Homo sapiens: one gene and its partner. The protein of the gene in region 2 interacts with the protein of the main gene of each other region in a pairwise test. Each region holds a gene or a part of one and is shown on either strand. Other genes may lie near its edges.

Region 1 (3,830 bases), on a different chromosome or scaffold from region 2:
CCAACCTCTATGGCAGGCAATTTGGCAATACTTATCAACAGTTAAAATAGACATACCTTTTGGCCTAAGACTAGGAATTTACCCCTCAGATACACTGAGGGGTCACATTTACAAAGTGACAAATGGTCATGGATATTTACTGAAGTATGGTTTGAGAATAACAAAAAAAAAAAAATTATGTACTCCCTAAATGTCCATCAACAAGGGATGGTTAAGTCAACATGATACTTCCACACAATGACTACTATGCAATAACTAATTAACATAAAGAGTGAGGCAATTCTGTAGTAGTCATGGGGAAGAATGCTCAAGACATATTGCTAAGTGAAAAAGCAAGATAATGAACAGCATGTACAGTTTAAAAATACATCTGCCCTGGTGGGTGGGAGGGATGGATGAAGAGAAGCTGGTTCATGGGTACAAACATACATAGATAGAAGAACTAAATTCTAATGTCTGTTAGGGTGACTATACTTAGTAGCAATACTTTGTATATTTCAAGGTAACTAGAACAGAGGACTTGATATAATACCAACCCGTGGAAATGAATACTTAGGTGATGGACACGCCGATACTCTGGCTTGATCATTACACACTCCATGCATGGAACACTCACATGTACCCCATAAATATGTAAAATATTATGTATCAATAAAGAAGAAAAATCTGCCCCTAACTACGCATTTACAAATATGTATGTGGGTCTCTATGCATATAGGGTATCTCTGGAGGGATACACAAGGACTAGAAGGAGGAGTGACCTCTCACGAGAAGATCCAGGAACTGAAGAGCCCAGATAAGAAGCAGTTACCTCTCACTGCAAACCCTCTCAGAACCTTTGAATTTCAGACCATGTGTCTGTATTACCAATTCCAAAACTTAACCAAATGCATCTTGAAAACACAAAGATGATTAAAAACCAAAAAGAACCCAGTGATTAGAAGTTGCATAGCTAGGGCACAGTGGCCACCGTAAGAGTGCTAAGAGGATGTTAACAGATGGCTCTACCCTGAGTAGTTTTTTTTGTCCATGAGAATGTCCCAAACTGTTACTCTACTCATCAAAAATCCAAATTCCCACAACTCCTTCAACAACTTTTCCCACCACTCACGAGTGATGGGGGAGGGGGGGTCTCTTCCCAGGAAAGTGCCACCGTCTCTGAAGTAGGCATGCTGGCCCACAACTTGGCCCAACACTCAGTTGCCCCAGAGTTCTCAGGAAAAAACCCATAGAGCATACATATAAAGTGAGCTTTCAATCTTGTAAGTACTGAGAAACACAACAGAGCCCTGATGATTCTAACCTAAGAGAAATGTGAGGCCAGAAAATCCCCCAGCGTGTGGCACATAGAATCTGCTAATGAGATGCCACGCCGGCTGCTCCCTCATTGCAGGGAGAGAGACCACAGTCGAGCAGCAAGGTAGGGCAGGCTGAAGAGAAGCTGGTTCATGGGTACAAACATACATAGATAGAAGGACTAAATGCTAATGTTTGCTACGGGGACTATATTTAGCAGCAATAATTTGTATATTTCTTTGTTGTTGTTGTTGTTGTTGTTGCTGCTGCTGTTGTTATGGAGTTTTTGCTCTTGTTACCCAGGCTGGAGTGCAGTGGCACAATCTCGGCTCACTGCAACCTCCACCTCCTTGGTTCAAGCGACTCTCCTGCCTCAGCCTCCCGAGTAGCTGGGATTACAGGAACACACACTTGGCTAATTTTTTTGTATTTTTAGTAGAGACAGGGTTTCACCATGTTGGCCAGGCTGGTCTCAAACTCCTGACCTCAGGTGATCTGCCTCCCTCGGCCTCCCAAAGTGCTGGGATTACACGCGTGAGCCACCACGCCTGGCCATACTTTGTATATTTCAAGGTAACGAGATGAGAGGACTTGATACCAACACATGGAAATGATGACCACTCATATCCAAAATGCGCATGGAAAAGATGCCCACGTTGTCTACGGTCCATATGGTATGGACTCAGATGAAAAGCCCTGGACTCTGACCCTGTCTCTTTCAGTAAACAGCAAATGCTGGGCTGCACCCCCAGATTCCCCGTCAGTGCTGAAGAACTGACTGCCTCAGCTGCAGGCTATCAGCTGTGAGCTCTCCCCAGGAACCGCCCTCAGCAACTGTCCCGTACGAGGCCATGCCCCTTGCCTGGGCAGCCCCCATCAAGGACTGGCCGATGCGGAAATATAAATCCCAGTCCTCTCAACCCAAGTTGGTCAGCTCTGAAGGGCCAGCTCAGCTCCAGCACTCACCACGGCATGGGCAGGGGCTTTGGCTGAGAGCGGTATTGGAGCCCAGCTTCTCCCTCTGCCCAGTGCTGCTTTGCCCCTTCCCTTGCAGAGGTCAGTTCTGAGAGTAATCCCTAAAAGCACATTCATCTCCTTCCCAAGATCCGCTTGCCACAACCCAATACTGACAGTCTAAAAAGGTGCTGGAGCTTGAACTATGCTCCCCCAAAAGATACCTTCAAGTCCCGTTGGTACCTGTGGATATGATCTTCTTTGAAAATAGGGACTTTGTAGATGTCATCGAGTTAAAATGAGGCAACACTGGATTAGGGTAGACCTACATCCCATGACTGGTGTCCTTATAAAGAGACATAGGAAAAGATTAAGAGACAGAAGAGACACTCAGAGGGAGGAACACTGTGTGAAGACAGACGCAGAGACAGAGCGCTGCAGTCATAAGCCAGAAAATGCCAAAGAGTGCTGGCCACCACCGGAAGCTAGTAAGAGGCAAGGAAGGATTCTCCCTGTGGCTGCAGAGGGAGCATGGCCCTGCCAACACCTTGGTTTTGGATCCTAGCCTCCAGAACTGTGACAGAATAAATTTCTGTTGTTGAAGCCACACAGTGTGTGGTAATTTGTTAGAACCATCCTAGCAAACTCATAGAGAATGTCAGAGAGAAGATCTACTCAGGGCACCCTTCTACGTAATCAAGGCAGGCAAGAACACCAGCAAGCTGGCTGTTACCCCCTCCACCAGGGCTGCTGCAGGCATCTAACAAGAATGTGCACGGGAGGGGCACCCTGAAAAAAACCGTAAAACACTGTAGCACTGGGCTGGTGCTGGTGATGGAGGAGAGGGAACAGCTGTCTCGAATTCACAGAGGCATCCCCCTCCTCGGGGACTATTCAGTCCCTGTGTTTCTAGCTCTTTCCTGCTGGTCATCGTACCACCCAGTGGCACCTCCTATCAGAAAGCGTGAAATTCAATTCAGGTCAGTACTTAGACCAGGGCTGAGTAGAGAAAGAAGTTTCACCCATCAGCTAACATAAGGCCTGGGGATTATCTACGGGTTTCAATTAGCCAAGAGAGCAGGTCTCTCCGTTACCATAAATAATCGACAGAGGGAATATATGTCCCAAGGCAAATGATAACCCTGTGCCCAAGCCTCCTTCCCATGGAGAACACCCCAACCTGTCCCTCTCTTCGGGGGCACATGGCTGCCACTCCCCACCCCTTCTGGGCAGATAAACCCTGGGACAGATGATTGCCGCGCTGACCTCCAATAGCTGGCAGCATGCAGAATTCTATAGTCTCACAGACCTGAGTCGGATTGGTATGCACGGGTAGCTATAGCCGTGACTCAACACCTGCAGAGAAAATGTAGGGTTGTACTCCTCTCCGTGGGCACCGTTTCTGCACTGTTGCGCTGACTCAAAGCACCCTTTGAAGTCCGTGGGACCTGTATCAATGAACACTAGGAACCAGGCCCTACGTGCCAATTTCCATCATTCACAAGTACTTCAAAAAGATGAGGCAGGGCAGGAAGTTCAAAAGAATCCGCCTGCAACTGCAGAATGCAATCCTCGAAATT
Region 2 (2,496 bases):
ATTTTAATTTTTCACCTTTTGGTTGTAGTGTAGACCAGAGTACTTTGTTTCCCCTTAAGGAGATGGGAGAGATGATGATGATGATGGTGATGATAGTGATGATTTGAGGGTTCCTGAAAGCATCCATAAACATGTAGACATTGGTATATTTTGCCTATTGTCTAAGTCCTGTTTTTGGTTTGGTGGACTCCCTGTGAATTTTGCTACTGAAAATCTCCTTATTTTCTAAAATCTCGTTTAAATTGAGATCCTCGCTTTATATTAATATACTATTTTCCCTAGAACAACTCTGTACAAAAGAAATATAGTATGTGTTTTTTATATATATATATATATATATCATTAAAATTTCTAGTAACCACATAAAAATGAAAAAGAAGCAGATAAAATTAATTTTAGAAACACATTTTATTTAACCCAAGATATTTGAAATATTATTTCAATACTAATCAGTATAAAAATTTTTAATGGACTATTTTACATTCTTTTTCTTTTTCAAATTAAGTTTTCAAAATCTTTTGTGTGTTTTACACTTATAGTACATCTTAATGCAAACTAGCCGGGTGTGGTGGGTCATGCCTGTAACTCCAGCACTTTGGGAGGCTGAGGCAGGAGGATTGCTTGAGGCCAGGAGTTCAAGACCAGCCTGGACAACATAGCGAGACCCTGTTTCAATTAAAATAATTTGTTTTAAGAAATGCAAACTAGCTATATTTCTAGTACTCAAGAATCACATATGGCTACTGTATTAGACAACACATGTCTGAAAGCAAGACACATAGTATTTAAGCCTAGATTCATTATTCAAAGATATGAAATTTTAAAATGCATAGCATTACTTTTTAAAAATAGCAGAATGGCTATTAAATATCTGTTCTCCCAACCCTCACTTTCTTTATTTCCAACACAACTTTAAAAAATAGATCAGTTTCTAAAATTACATGCTAGCTTAACTTGCTTTTCATCAGGGGAAGTGAAAATGCTAAATGAGAAGTACATTTAGGTTGCTAAAATCAGTATGCTTTCTTTCTTTCTTTTTTTTCCCAAAAAATGAAGAAATAAGGACTCTGAGGCTATTTAGGTATTTGCAGAACCTGGGTAAAATTTTACTTAAGAAGTAGTGTGGGCAGGGCGCGGTGTCTCACGACTATAGTCCCACTACTTTGGGAGGCTTGGCCTACATGGTGAAACCCCATCTCTACTAAAAATACAAAAACAAAAACAAAAACAAAAATAAATAGTATGCACGTGAGAGAACTAAGGGGATCATTGATTTAAGAACTGCAGTACTGCTTTTACACAAACATAACTGACTGATGAGATATACTATCCTTCCCAGCTCCTTGTCCGCAAGACTGGATCTGGCATGGAGAAAACTGTTACCTATTTTCCTCGGGCTCATTTAACTGGGAAAAGAGCCAAGAGAAGTGCTTGTCTTTGGATGCCAAGTTGCTGAAAATTAATAGCACAGCTGATCTGGTGAGTGTTCATGGATATTTGTTGGGGTGGAGTATTGGTTGATAGGGAAATTAATCTGGTTTAAACTGTCACTGGAGGAATTCTTGTTTGAGAGCCAAAATGTCTGTTTTTTTAGCTTAGTCTGATCACCAATTTTGTGTATGACCTTGGACGGACAGGCTCTGTAGTATCTCTAGCCTTCAGTAAGTGTTTCCGTAAAACAGTCAAGGGGATGTCAAAGATACCTTTTGGTTCTTTAGTTTTGTGGATCCAACACTAACTGACTTTCAGATTCTAAAACCACCATGTGGATTCCACAAACTCAGAAACATTACTCCCCACAGGACTTCATCCAGCAAGCAATTTCCTATTCCAGTTTTCCATTCTGGATGGGGCTGTCTCGGAGGAACCCCAGCTACCCATGGCTCTGGGAGGACGGTTCTCCTTTGATGCCCCACTTGTAAGTTTCCCATTCTTTTTGATGCCTCTCTCGTCAGTTTCCTATTCTTTGCTGAACCTGCTAGTGAGGTCACTGCCTGCATCCCACCAATGTCCTCTTCTTGCCAGAGAGAAGCTTGGGGGAATTTCTCAAAGTCTCCTTCCTTACCTCTTTCACAAAAAGATTTACTCATTAACCATTCAGACATTTTCTTGAGTTTTCCTTCCCACATTTATTACTGATTGGAGGCTTTAAGACAAAAAGTTTCAAAAGCTAAGTTTCTGAAACAAGGTGGCAGTAAACCTAAGTTTTTTTGTTGGTTTGTTTTGTTTTTTCCTACCTGCAGATTTAGAGTCCGAGGCGCTGTCTCCCAGACATACCCTTCAGGTACCTGTGCATATATACAACGAGGAGCTGTTTATGCGGAAAACTGCATTTTAGCTGCCTTCAGTATATGTCAGAAGAAGGCAAACCTAAGAGCACAGTGAATTTGAAGGCTCTGGAAGAAAAGAAAAAAGTCTTTGAGTTTTATTCTGGAATTTAAGCTATTCTTTGTCACTTGGGTGCCAAACATGAGAGCCCAGAAAACTGTCATTTAG

Evidence for each region.
Region 1: the proteins of OLR1 (region 2) and HUNK interact in a two-hybrid assay, tested with the Homo sapiens proteins (one large-scale study listed by BioGRID and IntAct).

Annotation. Positions count from the first base shown.
Region 1 is NC_000021.9:31,879,365-31,883,194, reverse strand, and holds part of HUNK (hormonally up-regulated neu tumor-associated kinase), read right to left. Parts: intron 1-3,830.
Region 2 is NC_000012.12:10,159,769-10,162,264, reverse strand, and holds part of OLR1 (oxidized low-density lipoprotein receptor 1), read left to right. Parts: intron 1-1,339; coding exon 1,340-1,479; intron 1,480-1,749; coding exon of another isoform or gene 1,750-1,802; coding exon 1,803-1,918; intron 1,919-2,243; coding exon 2,244-2,385; 3' UTR 2,386-2,496. UniProt on the Homo sapiens protein: Receptor that mediates the recognition, internalization and degradation of oxidatively modified low density lipoprotein (oxLDL) by vascular endothelial cells.